3 separate regions of the Homo sapiens genome follow, and regions 1 and 3 are each reported to be linked to region 2. Evidence: microRNA targets listed by miRTarBase, many of them from high-throughput screens and not tested one by one. Region 2 holds a microRNA gene; each other region holds the end of a gene's coding sequence.

Region 1 (7,118 bases), not on the chromosome of region 2:
GTGGGAAGGTGAAGATGTGGAGAAAGTGTGCCTGGTTGATATCAAGCCTGATAGCAAAAGAAATGTTCTGATTTCCACATGGCACAGCTTTTTGTCAGGAATAAAATATGCCTGTCCCTACAATAACCAACTACTTAGGGCTGACAAGAAACCAGTTGTGACACACGGAATAAACAGTCACATTTCGTGCTGGAAAGGTCAGAGAAAAAGCCCCAGTGGAGATAGGTGGGATTAGAGATTTTTTGGCTGTGTGTCTTGGGCAGAACATTTAAACAAGGAGCACTTGGGTGACGTTGGGGCAGATGAGACAAGAGAGCCAGACAGAGAGGTGCCCCTTAAGCAAATCATGTAGGTGAGATGACTTGTGTAAAACACTAGGCACAACACCTGTCATGCAGAGGCCCGGACTGGGGTTTGTATTGAGGCATGGTGGAAATCTCTCTTTGATCTTCAGGATACTTCAGCGTCTTTTTATTAGTGGCCAGTTAGGAAGGCTAAAATGATCTGTGTTTAGTGTGCACTGTGCATAATTGGCCCCACTCACAGTGGCACCCATCAGGTTTCCACGTGACAGAGACATTGCAGACTGGAAGCCCAAGAGGCTTCACTCCTATCTGCACTCATGGATACAGGTAGATTATAAGACTCTTGCAGGCATGGGCATTAAGGCAGGACCCACTTTTCACCCTGGCTCACCCCTAATGATCTGAGGCCATCTTTGTGTATATTAAAGAGGCATTGACATTTGAACACCTGCATTGGGCAGAATCTGGCTTGCCATACAGAGAGCAAGGCCAGCAGATGTGTTGAGTGCGTGTGTTAAAGAAGCATTACAGTGGAACTCCTAGCTACATCCTTACTTTTCTTGGTTTTTTTGCATGCCATATAGACAGGCTTGGAAAAAGAAGAATTATTTTTGGCTTTGTATAGCTCCCTGTCTCACGTGGCTACAGTTTTAAGAATTTAGCATTCTCTTCATGGCCTACATTTAACTCTGATTCTTCTTAATGTGCATTCTGTAAATATCCAAGTCTGTACTACAGGTGTGTCTCATTTTAAGAAAACAATGGATGCATGGTGTGCACAGAGTCACCCATTAAAGCCTTATGTTCACAGAAATGAAGAATCCAAATTTTAACTGGAATTCTAATGGCAAACCCATACGTGCAGTTAAAATTCAAGTTTAAAAAAATCAAAACACAAGCAGCTTCGAGGAAAAAACATCTCTTGTCTCAAATGAGATATGTGTATGTTGCTATTCCACTTGGCTCTTGGGTAGCTTCTTACTAGAGGATGAGGGCTTCATTCACAATCATTAAAGAAAGACTTGGAGCATTTTGAAGCATTTTGAAGTTCTCTGAAGAGCCAGGATCACGGTAAAATATTTTGAAAATGAAGTTTCACATGACTAGTTCAGGGAACTGAGCAAAGAGAAGACGGGGGAAGGGAGTGGGCATGAAGGACACAGAAGGAGGTCCCAGCTGTTGGTCATGTCTGCCAAGAGAGGAACAAGAAGGATGGGAATGACGCTGTGCGTGCAGAGATGGCAGACGGGGAAGGTGCTCGGGCTGACTGGTGAGTACAGTTAACCCTTGGACAAGATGGGTTTGAACTGTACACATTCAGTGGTATGTGGATTTTCTCCTGCCTCTGCCACCCCTGACACAGTAAGAACAACCCCTCCTCTTCCCTCTCTTCCTCCTCCTCAGCCTCCTCAACATGAAGATGAGGATGAAGACTTTTGCGATGATCCCCTTCCACTTAATGAAGGGTAAATGTATTTTCCTTACAATTTTCTTAACATTTTCTTTTCTCCAGTTTACTTTATTGTAAGAATACAATATATAATGCCTATAACATAAGATATGTGGTAATCTACTGATTGTGCTATCAGAAAGGCTTCCCATTGACAGCAGACTATTAGTAGTTAAGTTTTGGGGGAGTCATAAGTTATATGCATTTTTACTGCATAGGAGGTTGGCACCCCTGAGCTCCGAGTTGTTCAAGGGGCAACTGTATTTGAATGAGGAGTGATGAAAGGAGTCTGTGAAGTCACCTCTGGACGTCACCCCCTCTGGGAGGGCCTTCTCACACTTCTTGTTCGTGTGGTTTGATTTTGCGGTGTCACAGCCCTATGCTCATCCTTTATTTCACCACCACCACCACCACTGTTATTCTTACGATCACCAACGTGGTCTGGTTTTTTTTCTTGTAAGAGCTGGAGGTGTTTGGGAAGTGCCTCAGACACGCTGTTCTCTAGCCATGGAGTACCATCTCCTACCTACTTCCCGTCACATTCCCTGTGCAAACCCCATCTGTTCTCTAAACCTCGCTCATGCAGTCTACCCCTCCTCCCAGTTCCCATGTCGTTGTTTTCTCTTCCCTACAGCCTTAACCATTTGGCTCCTGAATTGTAATTCTCTGCCCCTGTGTCTTCTCTGTCCTGCGAAAACTGCACAGGATAGGTTGGAGCTTTACATCTCATATGTCCTGCTCAAAGTACAAATAGAGTCCTAGGTCTGCCCTTGCAAATAAGGGGCAGTGTCAACTGTATGTACCATCTCAAATAGCAAATTTGGGATGCTTAAAGGCAGACCACATCATTGCAGTGATACACTGTGAATTTGAATGACGGTTATGTTTATTTGGTTCAGCAGATAGAGAACGCATCTCTAAAAACCTTTTACTTACCTTAACTAGCAAAACTTACAACATTTACCTTTCAAAACATAGTGACATTTAACTCCATATAAAGTAAAAGGAGGTTCTTTAGTATCATGGAGTAGAGGAGGGGATTTAAGGATGCCAACATGCCACTTCTTTCTTGTTACCACACCTGTGGGTCCTCCAAGGCTCTCCAACATTTGCACATGATTGGATTATGACAAGAACAGAGAATTATGTAGCCTGCCTCTTATTTTTGTCCCCTTTTCAACTCAGGTCCAATGAATTCAGAGAAAAAGATCTACGTTAAGAAAAAAATGCAAGGAAACAGAACACTGGCTTTTAAAGCATTTAATAAGTCAAAATCAAATAAAAGTGATTTTTAAAAAGAATAAATTTACATACAGTACATAAGCAAGACAGCTGAAGGTTTCTAAAATAGAAACCTGGTGCATATGGCCCCAAAACACCACATGCTTTGATTACACTCAGGAAGCATGAGTTGCCTATTTGGGTGAGAAAATCCCATGTTACAGTGCGATCACTGGGCACGTTTTGGAGTAATTCCAGCCACTGCTATGTAAGTGTTTTTAATTCAGGGGTGTCTTCTACGTTTTCATCTTCTGAATATCTTGTGACGGTGCAGGTTTGAGCAAAACTGGCATGAAATGAGAGCTGTTTTAGATGAAGATTGCAAGATGGATGGCTTGGCCCACAGTGGCAGTGGGTTGGGGGTGGAATGTGGACAATTAGGAAAAAGGCATGTCATTCTATCTGGCTCCTGGAGAGGCAGATAGTCCTGGGGGCTTTGGTGTCACAGTTCCCAAAAGCAAGGTTGGCCAGACCATAGGCTTACATTGTGGTGAGCTTGCCTTTTAAATTAATCTCCAAGATGCCAGATCGAGAGGGATGGTGGACCTAGACTGAAGCCAAACCAGTAGGGGGCTCTCTTTCCCCAGAGAGAAACTCCAAATGTCTTGAAAGGAGCCTGAACCATACCCTTTGAAGGGGCAAGCAATGGTCTGAGACAGAGAGAGGATTTAACAGAGCAAAGTGCTGTGTGAGAAATGAATGGAAGAGGGCTAGCAAGACAAGGGTGTGAATCAGGTAATGCCTTTTTCACCCCGATGAATTTTTGTCTGATTCTCACCACAGAGCAGGAGTGCTCAGAAACTGAGGTTGGCGTCACCAATATACACTTTTCATTCTCCAGTTGCAGTAATCAAATACTTTAAAAAGTGACCAACCATGACAAATCCTTGGCTCATTCTTTAATGTGCTGTGGCTGATATATTCATCCTCAGCCCAAATTAGTTAAGTACAGCCTTAAATATATCAATATAGCTGATCGGCCTTCCTATTGTTGGGACTTAAAACTAGAGACAGCAGTAAAAATTATGTATATGATATATATATATATATAAAATGATATATATATATCATATATATGAGAGGCCAGCACCCACTCTGTGACAATGATCACAATCCCTCTTTTTAAAAAATACAAGTGGGAAAAGCTGATCCTTTTGTCAGCTGGCTTCAGACAAGTCAACCACAATTATTTGGTGTAAATATCCAGTGTTGCGAACTCTGGCTGGGCAGCTGTGTGGATGAAAATACAGAAAAGTGCCGCATCCGGCTGACAGCCACTGCTCTGCAGGGGCAGATGAAGGCTGGGAGTACCTGTAAGCTAAGGCCCTTCCCCTGAGTTGTGCTGCAAATACTGGGCAGAGTTTGATGTAAAAGCAGTCAAACGGCAGGTCATCTTGATCTTTGCCTTCTAACTATAATAAATATGAGAAGAATTTTAAGTAAAAACAGGATGTTTTGCTAAAAATTCTTTTTTTTTTTTTTTGAGAGAGTCTCGCTCTGTCGCCCAGGCTGGAGTGCAGTGGCGCAATCTCGGCTCACTGCAAGCTCCGCTCACCGGGTTCACGCCATTCTCCTGCCTCAGCCTCCTGAGTAGCTGGGACTACAGGCGCCCTCCACCACGTCCGGCTAATTTTTTTGTATTTTCAGTAGAGACGGGGTACCGTGTTAGCCAGGATGGTCTCGATCTCCTGACCTCGTGGTCCGCCCACCTCGGCCTCCCAAAGTGCTGGGATTACAGGCATGAGCCACCGCACCCGGCCTAAAAATTCTTGAGAAATTGGAATGCTAAGTTACATACTAAATATCATCCCAACAGTAAGGCCGTAGAACATATTTGAAATCAAGAAAAATGTGATTTTTCGGTTTTAACACGTTAAGAGCCTCTGTAACTTTTAAGGAAGCTATTTTTTTTTCTAGAGTATGCACATGGTGATGATGTGTTGGGTTGATAAAGCACTGGCTCAGTCCTACAGGCACTAAACTTCAATGGATACTTTGTTAACTATAGTTACACTAACTTTAAAGAAAGTTCTTGATACCTGTTCTTTATTCTTAGGAACTGAAGAGGAGGGAACTCCGGTGTTTGCATAATCATCGCCTTCCCATGTTAAGAGGACTCACCCTAGTAGGCTTAATGGGTTTTGTATTTGGTTGGCTTGTTTTCCCAAGAGACACTAAAGTTGTTCTTGCATTAATTCCCCTTAAAATTGCCAAGAGATAAGAGGTGGGAAGACAAAAAGGGCGCCTGATTCTATTCAGTAGATGAGAAAATAGATTTACAGAAGGTAACTGTGAAATTGGAGGAGTAATGTCAGGGAGGCCTTGTCAGGACAGGCAATGTCAAGGAAGCCTATCCCTTCTTTGTCAGACTCCAGAAAGGATTGAGTTCATCTGTTCTTCACAGATCCACTTTCCTAGGCAGATGCCAGTGCCTTCCAGGTTTGTATGAAAGCAAAAAACTGCTGACGATGGGCAGAGGGCCTGTCCCAAACCACTAGGAAGCAGGAGAGGGCAGGAATCTCAGTGAATCCCAGATGTATCCACCTGTGCTGAAGGCTAACCCCCAACCTGTTTGGTGATGTGTGAGCAGCCAGTTGGTTTCATGGGTCAGAAGAGTGTGGTAATGGTACCTGGAATCCTGCAAAATGCATGGAAACAAGGAAGAGCAGATCCTTATTCCAACATGAACAGCAGGACTTATAAGGAAAGCAGGCTTTTCCCCATGACCTCACAGCTCTGCCTCCACCTTTCATCTCTTCACAGTGAGCTTTCTTTCAGAGTGATCTTACCACCCAACCAGGCACAGTCTAATTTGATCATAACAAGGAGGAGGCCGGGCACAGTGGCTCATGCCTATAATCCCAGCACTTTGGGAGGCTGAGGTGGGTGGATCACTTAAGCCCAGGAGTTTCAGACGTACCTGGGCAACATGGAGAAACCCTGTCTCTACAAAAATTAGCTGGGCACATGGTGGTCTATGCTTACAGTCCCAGCTACTCAGTTGGCTCAGGCAGGAGGATTGCTTGAGCCCGGGAGGCAGAGTTTGCAGTGAGCTGAGATTGTGCCACTGTAATACAGCCTGGGAAACAGAGCAAGATCCTGTCTCAAACAAAACAAAACAAAAAATCACCAAATAAACGATAAGGAAGTCACCCTGTCCAAGGAATGCCGTTTCATATGGTGCCACCCCTTCTCCTAGACCAAAGTTCCCATTTTAGAAATAACTCCATGCTAGGCAAGGTTGTAACGGAAAAGAAAGGCTCTACCTCCAGCCTCCCAGATCACCCCATCTCTACTGGCTCTCCAGAACCCAGTGGGGCTCATAGCTATTCCTAAGCCAGGCCACAATTCCTGCCAGCCCATGACTAGATCCAAAGCCCGTGCAACAGCGAGAGGAGCAGGGGCCGGGCGGGGGGGGGGGGGGCGCGGTGTGTGCCTTTAAAGATCCGGATTATGGTCTTTAGCCTGGGTTCAACTGTAGCACAACCAACCACCACGGACGACCAATGACCGCTATGAGACAGTTCTTCCTTTCACACAGCAGCATCATTTATCTGGTAGTAGCAAGACAGCCGTATGACTTTTTGTTGTTGTTAAAGAAAAATAAGTTGTCAAGATTTGCCTACCAATAACTTTCCTATGTCTTGGCTTTCATGTCCAGTGGGCTAGTTTCCAACTGTTTGAGACTCAGGGTAATCCCAGAAACCTGTGAAGCATCGGCACAAAGGTTGTAGCGCAGATGCCAACAGATGTGTAGGTAACAAACTTGTAAGGCACTTCAATCTCCAGTCTCCGCCTGGCCTCCTTGTTCCTGGTGACCACCTTGAACCATGAGTATAATACTTGCAGTGAGAGATTTTGTACAAGCTGACGAACCAAGAGGATCAACACAATTCCCACTGCAAATTTGGTCAGACCCAAAACTAACATGTAGGTGGTGAGTGGTGGGATGTTCTGAATAACAGGGAGAGATTCAGCGGGCTTGGATACAAGCTGGAAGAAATGGTTGATCCAGAATCCTATGGTCACTCCAGCCCCGGCAGCCAGAATGGTGGTGGTGTCCGCCCGGGTTGGGCTGTAGT
Region 2 (7,118 bases):
CTTATGTTTCCCTGAAATGTATAAAACCCAGCTGTAGCCCAACTATCCTGGGCACATGTTCTCTAGATCTACTGCGGCTGTCTCATGGGCCATTGGTCACTCATATCTGGCTCAGAATAAATCTCTTCAAATATTTTATAGAGTTTGACCTTTTCATCAATAACCTCTATTCTTTTATCATTTGTTTTCCTCATCTTTTGTGTGTCCTGCAATGTCCTTGCTTCTTGCCACTCCTTCCCTGGTTGTTACTTCATTGTATTATCAGAGGAGTTTGAACCAGAGTGACTCCATCTTGAATAGGGGCTGGGTAAAATAAGGCTAACAACTACTGGGCTGCATTCCCAGGTGGATAGGTATTCTTGGTCACAGGATGAGATAGAAGGTCAGCATAAGGTACACGTCACAAAGACCTTGTTGACAAAAGGGTATGGTAAAGAAGATGGACAAAACCCACCAAAACCAAGGTGGCAACAAAAGTGACCTCTGGTTGTCCTCACTGCTCATTATACACTAATTACAATGGATTAGCATGCTAAAAGAGACACTCACCAGCACATGACAGTTTACAGATGCCATGGCAATGTCAGGAAGTTATCCTATATGGTCTAAAAACGGGAGGAACCCTCATTTCCACAAATTGCCCACCTCTTCCCCAGAAAACTTATAATCCACCCCTTGTTTAACATATAATCAAGAAGTAACTATAAGTATAATCAGTTGAGCAGCCCATGCTGCTGCTCTGTCTATGGAGTAGCCATTCTTCATTCCTTTACTTTCTTAATAAACTTGCTTTCACTTTAGTCTATGGACTCACCCTGAATTCTTGCTTGGGTGAGATCCAAAAGCCCTCTCTTGGGGTCTGGATCAGGATCCCTTTCTGGTAATGTCTTCTGGTTGAACCACGAAGGGACAATATTGAGGAAACCTCTGACCCAAAGAAAACAGCAATACCAATTGGCCGACTTTGAGTAAGAGGAGGGGTACATTTAACGTGGGTAAAGGATGGAATTGGGTTAGAGGCCCAACTTAGGAGGGTTAGAGTCCCTACTAAGACAGAGTTAAAGGCCTCCTTAATAAAAGGCAAGGACACTTGACCAAACTTGGGTTAGAGGCCCAACTTAGGAAGGTTAGAGCCCTTCCTAAGATTCAGGGGGTTACAGGTTAGAGGTCCCTCTCAGTAAAGTCCCTCTTGGTTAAAAATGGATTTGGAATTATGGGATGTTATCTGCTATTCTCTTTGGATTAATCTGCCTTGCACTGTTTGCTGATGGCTGTGGGTGACAGGATTAGGCATGTACAGGATCACCAGATGTGGGAGCATTTTTCTCCCTAAAGTGGGAAAGATGAGAGCTGATGGGACTGTTGGAAGAGCTCCCTTCATTACTGAAAAGCAGGTGCCTGAACTTTTGATTCAGCGTCGCTGCAATGGGTGGGTCTTTCTCTGGCCTCCCGGAGCTATGTACCCTGCCACAGACAATGCTTTTCTCCCCTTTTCTCCTTTCTCTTTTCTATCTTTTCTGTTACTCAGAGCCAACTGTCTGCTGTTTCATCTTGCCCAGAGACCACATGTTGAAACTCCTGGTTGGAAGATCATTGTACCCCACTTTTCTTTTTAGCATATAATCAAGAAGTAACTAAGTATAATCAGTTGAGCAGCTGATGCCGCTGCTTTGTCTTTGGAGTAGCCATTCTTTACTCCTTTACTTTTTTTTTTCTTTTTTGAGACGGAGTTTTTGCTTTTGTCACCCAGGCTGGAGTGCAGTGGCACTCTTGACTCATTGCAACCTCCACCTCCCAGGTTCAAGCAATTCTCCTGCCTCGGCCTCCTGAGTAGCTGGAATTACAGGCACCCACCACCACACCCAGCTAATTTTTGTATTTTTAGTAGAGACGGAGTTTCACTCTGTTGGCCAGGCTGGTCTCGAACTCCTGACCTCAGGTGATCTGCCCACCTCGGCCTCCCAAAGTGCTGGGATTACAGGCTTGAGCCACCGTGCTCCATGATAACTTTTCAGAAAACTTTTTTCTACTTTTTGCCACAACTTTTTTACATTTTTATCCGATAACTTTTTCACCCCAAAACTTTTTTAATCCCATACCTTTTTTATGTTGTGTTCTTTCAATAAACACTTGCATAGTTATACTACATTTTTGTAACAATGAAACAGATTATCTCATGCCAAGCATGCCCAGTATTTGCACAATATCAATACTTTTAATACTATAGTTTTCAAGACACGCAAAATAAAATTTTAAGGCAAAAACAGCACTTTGCAACAATTTAAAAATTTATTGCATTACAGTAGCATCACATCAGCAGTCAATAATGCCACTTTAAGCAAAAGTCTTTCAGTATTTCCGTTACACATTCTGTTAACAAGAACTCATACATTGGTAAAATTCATTCTAAGAAAACTTGGCAAATAACGCTTTGGCCTGGAATTGGCATTTCTTTCTCTACTTTTCCTTCCCACCATTTCTTCCTTTTAAACTACAGGATTTATATTTTAAAATGTTTTATTTCAGAACATTAAGATAGCAGTTACATTTTTTAATATTTATATTATTTTAAAATGACTCTTTAAGATACAGTTTTAAACCCATGGGCTAGAAATCATACGACTGTTAATTAGCCGCATTATTTGGTCTAACATTTTTTATCATTCTGAAACTGGATTTGTGTAATACATTGATAAATTCATACAATTTGGAAGAGTCAGTTGAAGTTACAAGGACCCAATATCTGCCCTCTTTCAGTGAATGCCGGCAAATCTGTTATTCCATTGGCAAAATCGTATTGCTGCTCTCCTGTTAATCTCACATTTATAAAAGGATCATGAGGCTGCCAAGTGCTAAAAATGGAGATGGTCTAGTAACTAGAAAACTCCCCACCCCAGGGAGCACACCTACATATCTCCCTACAACCTAATAATGTGATGTGTTTTGGAACACAGACATTAGAACTTCATGAAGTTTTAACTGTTGATTCTTTCCCAAGCATCATCAAGTTATGATTTAGGCAATGTATGATTGAAATGCATTCATTCATCATGCATAGGCACAATCACAGAAATATTGCACAAAGTATGTCCCTGACTGAAAATGAGAGGTACAAAAACGTATTTCACTCTTCGTAAAGAAGTTTGTGAGGAAATACAACTCTGCGATCGTATAGACATGTTTCCTGATAATACAGACATTCACAAACAGTAGATTGCACCACAGTGTGTAAACATTTTAAGTTGCATAAACTTCTCCTTGATTTTCAAAGATAATATAATACTGTCTACTAAAATTCCTTTTTGTTTCAACTAAGTACTCTCACATATATTAGTTTATAATAATGTTTGTTATTACTTTCTAAAGTGTTTTCCACTCAAGGAAAAGAAGTAAATTCCTATGTCAGAGTAACCGAGGTGGTTGAAGAATAGGTATTAGCCAGAGAGGTCTAGATAGTAAAATCAAACTTCAAGCCTCAAAGAAGCTCCATGAACAGAGAGGAATGCCAGGTGTCACACAGCTTTCCTTCACTCTAATTCATTCTTGACTAGAGCCTGTATGCCTGTTTCAGAGACATTTAAACTCTTAAAGGATTTCTTATGATCTTCACTAAATACATTAAGAAGAATGCCAACCAGCGCCCTTTCGTGTACTGGGACAGGTAGTCATGTGATTAAAACAGGGAACACGAACTCTGACTTTAAAATGTATTGTAGATACAAATGCTCTAAGCTAGGAAAGGTTTTTCACACCCACAGCCAATGATGGCAGCCTTTCATTCCTCGGAAATAAGCCCTTTTTAGGTCACTGAAAAAGAGTGCAACTGCTGCAGCTCACGATGCAATATCTTCATGAGCCCAGAGCACATACAAATCCAAAGGGAACTGCCACAGTACACTGCTCATTCTTGGCACCGGAACAGATGAAACACACTGTATCCTGCACATACCTGCCAGAGCAGGCCACTTTCCTCTTCTGTGAGATTTAGAAAGCTCCCCCAAAAGGTTATCACTCCCATCACCAATACACAGAAAATGGAGGAAAGGCTGTTTCCAGTTCTCGGCCTTTAAACAGCTCTAAATGTCAGTACTCACAGTGGCATATTACAAAGTAATAAACAGTGCACACTTGAGGGCAAACCGCATATTGAGCTATAGAAGAGCTCACTGTGATTAAGATGAGATCAAACATCATAGCAGAACATTAGCAAATTTTATCTGAATTCTGTAATGGACATCCATGCTGCAATAACATTAGAAAAGCACGGGAGCCTATTCCAAACCAGCGAGAACAGTTTTGTGCAAAGAGTGGGTCTTTGTGTGTTTGAACTCCCACCACGTAAGGGCAAACTCGATATGCATGCTAATGACCTACAATTATGAAATGAAAAAAGAAAAATGCTGAAGGATGCCAGAGTGAACATCAGTGAGAGCCACAGAGACCCACTCTCTTTTAACTTTTTACAAATAAACTTAAACTATAAATTAGAAACACAAATAATCATGAGTAGCTCTAACATTCAAATGAAGTAAATGAATTGTGTAGGAGATTAACCCCATAACTTTGTTTCGTTTTTAAAAATTTCTTGAGCAGCTCTTTGATGATGGTGGTGTTTATCTCCTTCTTCTCGGCAGCCAAGCCCAGCAAAAGCATGGCACACAGCAGTTGCTGCCCAAGCCTGGGTGCTCCTGGTGGTCCTGCATCTCACCAAGGAGCTGCACGACTGGCTGTGCAGTAGGGTTGTCCTGGGAAGAACCCTCCCTGGCTTCTCCTTGTGCAGGCTCCACGCTGTTGGTGAGGCTCGCCTCACAAAGATCTTTGGAGAGAGGGAGGCGGGGATCTGAGTGGAGTGCTAGCCGCCCCCCGCTCCTGCCTGCTCACCCCGCCTGGGGGCTCTACTCACCACCATGCTTGTCGGCAGCCCCGAGCTCCTGGGGGGCTGGGGCTCCTGGACTGGGTTCAGCAGCAGGGTTCCGGGCAGCGGCCAGGAATTTGCCGTGCCCCTCGCTGTAGCTGCCACAAGCCGCAACACCATCTCCTGCAGCTCCAGCAGCTTCACCTGAAGGGACGGGTGCTCAGCTGTCAGGCCGCTGCTGGCGCCCACCCTCATGCCCACCCCACCCACACCCCCACCCCACCCCCACCCCCACAGGGATGTTGCACACCCTACCTTCCTCTCCTCCTTGTCCTGGGCCAGCCTGATGATGGCCTCCTCCCGGTGACGCATCTTTGGCACTGTCCCCTGGCTCTGTTAGAAGGCGATGTACTTTCCTGCGGGAGGACAGGGCTCAGACGCTGGGGCCCCTCCCATAGCCCTGCAGCTCCCCCTGCCGTGCCCTGGCCTCCCACTCACTGATGGCATCTCTCTCTCCGGTACTGGATGAATCCAAGTTCCAGTTTCTCCACATGCTCCCTCAGGTCCGCCTTCTCCTCCAGGAGGTCCATAAGGCCGCTCTGGAGCCAAAATAATGGGGTCACATCTCAGCAGCGACCTGCCCCAGCCCTGCCCTTCTTGGCCCATGCTAGGACTCACTCCCCTCCAGCTTCTCCATGACTTCCTGCAGGGCCCGGAGGGTCTCCCCACTCACAGACTCGCCCCCAGTCCCTGAGGCTGGGACTGCTGCCTCTGGCTCCTTCTCGGCCGAGGTGAGCGTCTCCATCACCTGGCCCAGCTTCTCCTGCAGCTCCTTTACTTGCTGCTCCAACTGCAGTGCGCTCTTGTTCTCGTGCTTCTGGACAGAGAGAAGCAATCAGCAGCCACCCACTGCAGCTGGAGACCCCAGAACTTGGTGTCTGCCTCCCATGGCACCGGGAAGGGTGGAGCCAAGTTAGAAAAATACTCTCCTCTCTCCCACAGCCACCAGAGCAAAGCTCTGGCTCACAGGTGCCTTTGGAAGTAATATTTCATGTGAGGGCTACACTGCCCCATTTTACAGGTGGGGAAACAAAGGCCTGGAGGGCTAGGGAGGAGGGCAGGCTCCCCAGGTGGGGCAACCCACCAGCTCCTCCAAGTCGCTCTGTGGCTCGGCCAGCTGCTGAAGCCTCTTCTCCCGTTCCCGAAGCCTCTCCTGCTGCTCCTGAAGCCTCTCCTCCTGCTCGCGAAGCCTCTCCTTTTGCCCACGGTTCAGGAGACTGATGCACTGATTGTTTTCCACCTGAGCCTGGAGCTCTCCTGCCACTCTCTCCAGCTCCTTCCTCAGGTCTTGCAGCTCCACCTCAGAGGACACTGCTGGGGCATCCGGGGGCAGTGGCTCAGCTGAGAAAGGAAGCAGATCATAAGGGCCTCTGGATTCTCAAAACAAAAATCAAAACAGAAAAAACAACAAAACACCCTCCTGTTGGCGCACAGCTCCTCTCAGGCTCCCAAACTTGGCTTCACTGCTAACGATCCCTCGCACCCGGATGGTAGCCAGTCTTCCAAACCACTTTCAGATAGAGAGCACTGCGGGTGGCTGACAACGGGCCCTCTTTGCTCATGGGGACACTGAGGCTCAGGGAGATGACAAGACTTGTCTCCTGGCACAGACCTCTTTCCCTCTGCCTCAAAGCCCTGCCATCCACCCACCTCCCTGGGGCACTCTAAGCCACCCCCACAGCCCTCTGATGCCAGTCCTGCTCCCAGGTCATGCCAGCCCCATCTTACCCATCTGGTTTTTGAGTCTGGACAAGCTCCTCTCCAGCTCCTCTACCCGATGCGTATCATGCTTCTTCTCCTCCTTCAATGTGCAAACCTGCCCAAAGCACAGGGGGAAAGGGCCCTGGAGAGAGGGGCTGGTGGCTGGACAGGCTCCCATCTCCCTCTCTGCCCCCACCTCCACAAAGCCCAGACCCAGGACCACCTCTGGCTGCACTATTCCCATTTTAAAGAGGCCCAGAAAGATCCAGTGACCTATCTTAAGTTGTTGGTGGGGGGGGGGTGGGGCGGGAGGCTGAAGGGTCAGATCTCACCTCCTGCGACATTTTCCTCATCCTCTGCTGCCACTGGGCCCTCTCTCCTTTTATTTGTTCAGCATATTGATCTCTCTCCAGCTGGACTTCTTTAAGCGACTCCTTCAACTGCAAGAATGGCCACACAAGTTAGGAAGGGCCGTCACTGGTCCTCACCTGCTCCTGGCCAC
Region 3 (7,118 bases), not on the chromosome of region 2:
CAACCCTATGCATGCACTGGAGAACTTCCTGAAAGAAGAAAAGGGAACTGAGACCCACATGAGGCCTGGACTATGTTAGGGGTGGCCTGCATGGATGACGTTGTTGGTCATGGCTGGTCCCAGCACCAGAGGGAGACTTAGAAAGTTTTTAGCAAAGCATGTCAAAGCACAGGTTACCCCCAAAACATGGGGCTGAAGGCATGGGGACTGCTTGCCTCAGTCTAAAGACAGTGATGGAAAAGACAAACCCAGGAGATGTTTCGGAGAAAAGAAAACAACAACATCCCACACCTGGGGCCAGAAGGGGAGGGGTGCTGGCCTGGGGAGGGGCTGCCCTCCTGAGATCAGGAGCTGAGTGAATGGAGAGGGAAGAGTACCAGCTGGCATGCTGCTTGCTCTTTGCTGAGTTCCCTCTCAGTGTGGGTGAAACTGGCTCAGCCCTGCTGGCTGGCACGAGGCCATGGAAAACCCAAATAAAGCAGTTAACTCTGAAAAGGTTGCTGCTTCCTCCTATTCCTTGGGAGATGCATTCAGGGCTACACTCAGAGGCCACTTTTCGCAAGGTGAGGAGGAGCTTGTATTCAAGGAAACACTGCTTTTTCCTCCCACATTTGACACATATGTTTTCAACATCCAACATTCACAGCCAACCTCTCTACACCTGCTCTGCCTCGGAGCCCTGGCAGTCCCTGGACACGTGTTATGGAAGGAACACTGTCTCCCCCACATGCTCACATGGCCCAAATCCCCACAAGTCCCCTTTTTGCCAAGCTCCACGTCCTTTGCCTCTTCCCATCACCCAATACCCAACCTGCCATCATTGTCCTAAGCTTCCCTTCCCTGCTTCTCTCTTTGCACCTTGCCGGGTTCTCACACTCCCACCCACCTTGATAGTGAGTCCAAGCCCATCCTACCCCACCCCCAACTCCTTCTTCTTTTTCTGAGACAGGGTCTTGCTCTGTCATCCAGGCTGGAGTGCAGTGGTGTGATCACAGCTCACTGCAGCCTTAACCTCCTGGGTTCAAGGATCCTCCCACCTCAGCCTCCCGAGTAGCTGAGACTACAGGCGCTTGCTACCATGCCCAGCTAACCCCAACTCCTTCTTAATCAGATTGTCTTGCTTACTTGTTTATTGTCCCTCTCTTTTTTTTTTTTTCAGAGAAGGAGTCTCGCTCTTGTTGCCCAGGTTGGAGTGCAGTGGCACGATCTCAGCTCACTGCAAACTCTGCCTCCAGGGTTCAAGTGATTGTCCTGCCTCAGCCTCCAGAGTAGCTGGGATTACAGGTGCGCACCACCACACCCAGCTAATTTTTGTATTTTTAGTAGCGATGGGGTTTCGCCATGTTGGCCAGGTTGGTCTCAAACTCCTGACCTCGTGATCCGCCAGCCTCAGTCTCCCAAAGTGTTGGGATTACAGGCGTGAGCCACCATGCCTGGCTTGTCCCTCTCCTTCGTTAGAAGGTTCCAAGAATGCTGGCACTTTCTCTGTCTCTGTCACCTCTGACTCCTCAGAACTTAGCACAATGGATGGCACATCCTTGTCAAAACAATGACCAGATGAATGAGACATGCTTATGTTTAAGGAATTACAAGGAGCATTTTTTCTGCCTAGATTTGAAACACACACCCATTGCATTTTAAAAAATGTTTCTGTCTATTTACTCTATCAACTGTGCCATGCCTGGGGCTGTTTCTATTTGTTTTTTCTTTTTTTTTTTTTTGAGACAGAGTTTCACTCTTGTTGCCCAAGCTGGAGTGCAATGGCACAATTTCGGCTCACTGTAACCTCTGCCTCCTGGGCTCAAGCAATTCTCCTGCCTCAGCCTCTGAGTAGCTGGGATTACAGGTACGCAACACCATGCCCGGCTATTTTTTGTATTTTTAGTAGAGACGGGGTTTCCCCATGTTGAACAGGCTGTTCTTGAACTCCTGACCTCAGGTGATCCTCCTGCCTCGGCCTCCCAAAGTGCTGGGATTATAGGAGTGAGCCACCACACCCGGCCTCTATTTCTATTGATGGTTTTTTCTCCTCTCATGGCCCATATTTTCCTGCTTCTTTGCATGCCTGATTATTTTTTAATGGACACCAGACATTGTGGATTCTATATTGTTGGATGCTGGTTTCTTTTTGGTTTGTTTTTCATATTCCTTTAGATATTTTGAAGCTTTGTTTTGGGACTCATTGAAGTTACTTGGAAACTTACTGGAAACAATTTGACTCCTTTGGGGCTGGCTTTTTAAGCTTTGTTAGGTGGGACCAGAGCAATCTATCATCTAGGACTAATTTGGCCCCACTTCTGAGGCAGTACCTTATGTGTCTCTATACAATGACTGTTTTGGGAGGTTTCTCCACTCTGGCTGTTGGAAACATGAACTCTTCCCAACACAGTGTTATCTCAGGAAATTATTCCACCTGCTTCCTCCTGGTGGTTCTTTCCCCTGCCTTGGGTAATTTCTTCACATGCAGATGTTGATCGGTAGTTAGCTGAAGACTCAAGGGTAACCCTCTGAAGATCTCCAGAGCATGCTCTCTCTCTTTCTCTCTCTTTTTTCTCCTCTCTCTCTCCTTCTCTCTCTCTCATCCCTGGGACTCTGCCTTGCAAATTTAAGCCACTTTGTCCTCCCTGGATTCCCAGCTCCATTTCCTCAACTCAGGGAAACCACTGGGCTCTACCTGGTTCCCCCTTCCTGGGCTGCAGCCTGAAAACTCACTGCAGGCAGTAAGTTGGAGCAATCATAGGGCTCCCCTCACTTGTTTCCCTTCTCTTGCGGATCAATCATACCCTATATTGCTTGTTATCCAATGGCTGAAAACCATTGGTTTGTATAGAGGATTTTGTCTCATTTTTAGTCATTTAAAGCAGGAGGGTAAATCAGGTCCTTGTTGCTTCATCATGGCTGTAGGTGGTGGTCCTGCTTTTCCATATACAGGATGCTCTCAGTGCCTTTCCACAGGCTGCATGGAGAGACAATGAACTCTGCACTGAGAAATCCTAGATCCAGTCATATACTGTCTCTGGGTTCCAATTTCTGTGCCAGTCTGCTATTGCTACAATTAATGCTATATAACAAACCACTCTAAACCTCAGTGGTTTATGACAAGCAGCATATATTCTCATGCCAATAGGTCTTTGGGTGAGCCATAGTTCAGCTGATCTGGGCTGGGCTTGCCTGGGAGGCTCTGCTCCAGGCTGTAGACTGGGCTCAGGTCTGCTCTCTGGATGTTCCAGGCTGAAGGGGCAGCAGCTACCCATGGCATGTTCATCCCAAGAGAGATCACTGGAGCAAGAGGCAAGCTCAACCATGAGAGCACAATTCAAGCCTCTGCCTGGATCAGGTTTGCCAACACCACATTAGTCAAAGTGGGCCATGACAAAGCTTTGGATGTGTAATTCTATACTGGTGGTGAAGAATTAAAATGATGTATTCAGTATACCACAATTTCTCTATCTGCTTTCTAAAACTCCTTTTTAGCAAGATCTGGGCAAGCTACATTTTAACTTCCCTCCTCCAACCTCCGTCCACCCTACTTCTTGTCAAGGGATTGGTAGAGCCAGTTGAATTCTAGCAGGGACTGGGCTGGAGTCACTGGCTAGGCTGCTTTCCAGAAAATGTTTTTGAAAATCCCACATTTTGGCCTAGAGTGAACTCAGATACTTCTTGTCATCCGTGGCTCCACTGATCCCAGGTGGATTGCTGGAAAGTCTTTTCAAAACATTGCATCAATTTCTCCCATTTGCAGAGGCCAGTGAACTCTGGGAAGGTGCACTGCTGTCAAGCATGTGTCCATATCAAAGGCTGGGCTTCCATTAGGGGATGTTCGGAGCAAAAGGCCCCTTGGCCAGTTGCTGCACACACTTTGCATATGCTCTGGACACCAGTGGCCCCAGATCCCATGTTGTGTGTTTTTCTGTCTTCATTTCCTTTCCTGTCTTAGTGATTGCCCCAGGAGGCTGGTTCACACCCCGCATGGGGCCATGCCACACATCTCTGTCAGTAAGGCCTTTGGATCCAGGAGATGATGTCTCAGTGGGAGATCTAATGTTGAAAGACTCTGGCAGGGTATGTGGCTCATGCCTGCAATCCCAGCACTTTGGGAGGCCAAGGCGGGAGCATCGCTTAAGGCCAGGAATTTGAGACCATCCTGAGCCACACAGTGAGACCCTGTCTCTACAAAAAATTTAAAACGAGCTAGGTGTGGTGGTGCATGCCTGTAGTTCCAGCTACTTTGGAGGCTGAGGTGAGAGGATCGCTTGAGCCCAGGAGTTGGAGGCTGAGTATGGCTTGAGCCCAGGAGTTGGAGGCTGACTAGTGAGGTATGGTCGCACCACTGCACCCCAGCCTGGCTGACAGAGACCCCCCCCATCTCAAAAAATAAATAAAAGAAAGTAAAAATAAAAGAAAATAAAAGTTAGTAGACTCTACCCAGCTCTAGAGGGCTGAGGGCACTAAGGCATGCCAAGAATACTGCTGCTGCTACATAGGGGACTGGGGCAAATGCCATGCCATCTTCAGGGCTCTTGAGAGTGTGTGTGTGTATGTGTGTGTGTGTGTGCAGTTACATGTGTGTTCCATGGACTCTTGGGGAGGCTTCTAGAATCAGAATTTGGTCTTCCTCTGGTTCTACAGACTTTACAGAGGGCTTACTATGTTCCATTGAACTGTGAGGGCCAGGAGTGGACCAGAGATGCTGGCCCCTGTCCCGATGGGATTCAGTCAGAGCCTGGGGGAAGTCAGAGTGACACCAGCCTGAGAAACACATCTGGGTTCTGGCTCGTCTACTCATGAACTGAAGGACCGTTTACTGAACAGCGACTCTGTGCTTGGGACACAGCAATGAGCAAGACAAACAGGTCCCTGTTGCATTGGAGCTCTTAGTATTATGGGGGGTTGCAGGTATTTCAAAAATAGGCAAGTTCGGAAGGATAACATGTCAGATAGTGATGCAGAAAAAATGGTAATGGGATAGGGGATAACTAGGGGGTGACTCGAGATGGAGTGGTCAGGGGAAGCCCCCTGAAGAGGGGACATTTGTCAGTGGCATAGAACAGCAAGCTGAATCTCCCCTTCACTCTGGCCTTCTAATTATATAAAATAGGGGTGTGGATTAGAGGAGCTCGATGGGCCTGCCTAGCTTAGAAATGTAATGGTTTAATCTTCTCCTGCATGATCCTGTTACCCAGTCCTAAAAAACGAAAAAGAAAATCAAGCCAATTATACTATATTACCACTCTGCTCCCCTCCAGGGTCATCAGGTCCTGTATTTATAGGACAGAGACACCAGGAGCAGTGGACCAGCACTTTTATCCAGTTAGCTTCATTTCCAGGTGCCACTCCTGCTCACCCTCCGCTGCCCCTCCCTGGCTGCAGCTGGGTTGGAACCCCCTGGCCCAGGGGGCAGTTCTTCAAGAACCTCCTTGAGGGCTGCCCACCTTCCCTTGGATCTGTCATGGAGAGGGCCCATGGAGACAAGACCCCCAGGCAGCTATGTTTTTCCCTGTGGAAGTGGGGAGTGTCAGCCCAAATCCTCCCAAGTGGCTGGGTGAAGGTTGTGAGGCCCAAGGTACCCACACTGCCCTCTCTCAAGCTCTCAGCAGAGCCCCTGGGAGCTGCCCACTGTTCTCTGGGTGCTATGATGTCCTTAGACCCTGCAGGGCAGATGGCTCCCTGGAGACACAGCTGTTCAGGCACTGCCTCCAGGTCATCCTGGCCAAGAGGCTGATGGTGAAAGATGTGGTCTGGGAGATCAGGATTGGCCTTCAGGATGCCCTGCATTCCACTGCCTTGCCTGTGGCTGGGACATCCTGCCTGGACCTGTCATGGCCATTTCTGGGCTTCCAAACCAGAGCACGGGCCAAGGGAGAGAGCTGGCAAATCGTTAAAAATAAAAATATTCCCCCCACATTCCACTGGTGTGAGCATCCTCTGACATTATATTTTGATGGTGCTATTTCACATTCTCAAAAGCTTATAAAGATCTACACAAAACGTCACTACAACAGTGAGCTGAAGCCTTCACCCTGCCCCTAGCACTCTGGCCTTGCCTGGCCCTGCCAGCAGCTCCAGCAACCACAGGAAGGATGTTGTGGTCAGCCCCAGCCCCAGCCTCTCGGTGGCCTCCAGGTCAGCATCCTTAAAGAAACACAGTCCCCTCCATGGGAATCAAAGTCACTAGTTGCTCCCAGCAGCCCATAGTTCACTTCTGAAGCCAGAGCAAGTGAGGGGCGCTGCCTTCATCTGTGCTTCATTCTTGCTGGCATAATTCATGGATGGATATTTCCTGGAAATTCAATTGCTTCCCAAACCTGAAAGGGAGACAGGATGCTTTTGGTTAGGCTGTGCATGCAGACACTGACTTTTCCCAGGATTGAATCGGGGGGAGGGGAGGCCACCAGCCACTCCCCCTGGGTCTTGGGCACTGCATCTGTGTCTTGCCTCCCAGGAGCTGCATTTATACCCCAAGCTCTGAAGGAAGAGGCCCCCTTTGCCCTTTGCAGAAGCTCCATCTCCCTAGGCTGAGACTGACGCCTGTTTTCCTACCCCACCGTTTTCTTTCCTTTTCTTTCTTTCTTTTTTTTGATGGAGTCTCGCTCTGTCACCGAGGCTGGAGTCTTGTCTTTTCCTTCCTTCCTTTCTTCTGTCCTTCCTTCCCTTCCTTCCCTTTCTTCCCTTTCTTCCCTTTCTCTTCTTTCTTTCTTTTTCTTTCTCTTTCTTCTCTTTCATTCTTTCTCTCTTTCTCTCCCCTTCTTTCCTTCCTTTCTTCCCTCCCTCCCTCCCTTCCTTCCTTTCTTTTCCTTCCTTCCTTTTTCTTTCTTTCTTTCTTTCTCTTTCCTTTCTTTCCTTCTTTCCTTTCTTTCTTCTTTCTTCTCTTTCTTTCTTTCTTTCCTCCTTCCTTCCTTCCTTTCTCTTTCTTTTCTTTCTTTCCTTCCTTCTTTCTTTCTTTCTTTCTTTCTTTCTTTCTTTCTTTCTTTCTTTCTTTCTTTCTTTCTTTCTTTTTCTTTCTTTTCTTTCCCTCCCTCCCTCCAGCCTCCCCTCCCTTCCCCTCTTCCTTCCTTCCTTCCTTCTTTCTTTTTCTTTCTTTTCTTTCTGGACGGAGTCTTGCTCTGTTACCCAGGCTG

Evidence for each region. Region 2 holds the annotated microRNA hsa-miR-1233-3p (UGAGCCCUGUCCUCCCGCAG, at 5,272-5,291, opposite strand). A microRNA usually pairs through its seed, bases 2 to 8, with sites in the 3' UTR of a target mRNA and lowers its output. Matches are read on the target gene's strand: a 7mer-m8 pairs with bases 2 to 8, a 7mer-A1 pairs with bases 2 to 7 and ends in A, and an 8mer does both.
Region 1: miRTarBase lists SGPP2 as a target of hsa-miR-1233-3p. Seed matches in the 3' UTR shown: 7mer-A1 at 6,061-6,067.
Region 3: the mRNA of KIF6 is a reported target of hsa-miR-1233-3p. Seed matches in the 3' UTR shown: 7mer-A1 at 4,286-4,292, 7mer-A1 at 4,255-4,261 and 7mer-m8 at 675-681.

Annotation. Positions count from the first base shown.
Region 1 is chr2:222,558,504-222,565,621 of GRCh38, reverse strand. It overlaps SGPP2 (sphingosine-1-phosphate phosphatase 2), which reads right to left. Exons shown (of 5, transcript NM_152386.4): 5 at 3,001-7,118. The coding sequence ends at 6,724. Among named protein-coding and RNA genes, the nearest start is that of FARSB, 94 kb to the left of the region's middle.
Region 2 is chr15:34,376,798-34,383,915 of GRCh38, forward strand. It overlaps MIR1233-1 (microRNA 1233-1), which reads right to left and starts at 5,353; the gene lies at 5,272-5,353. It overlaps GOLGA8A (golgin A8 family member A), which reads right to left. Exons shown (of 25, transcript NM_181077.5): 18 at 6,949-7,056; 19 at 6,644-6,731; 20 at 6,000-6,256; 21 at 5,589-5,732; 22 at 5,354-5,454; 23 at 5,171-5,271; 24 at 4,904-5,059; 25 at 2,271-4,816. The coding sequence ends at 4,614.
Region 3 is chr6:39,330,244-39,337,361 of GRCh38, forward strand. KIF6 (kinesin family member 6) reads right to left here. Exons shown (of 23, transcript NM_145027.6): 23 at 1-6,305. The coding sequence ends at 6,289. All of the region lies in intron 1 of LOC105375047 (a long non-coding RNA gene), which reads left to right. Among named protein-coding and RNA genes, the nearest start is that of KCNK16, 11 kb to the left of the region's middle. RefSeq lists an enhancer at 5,920-5,999.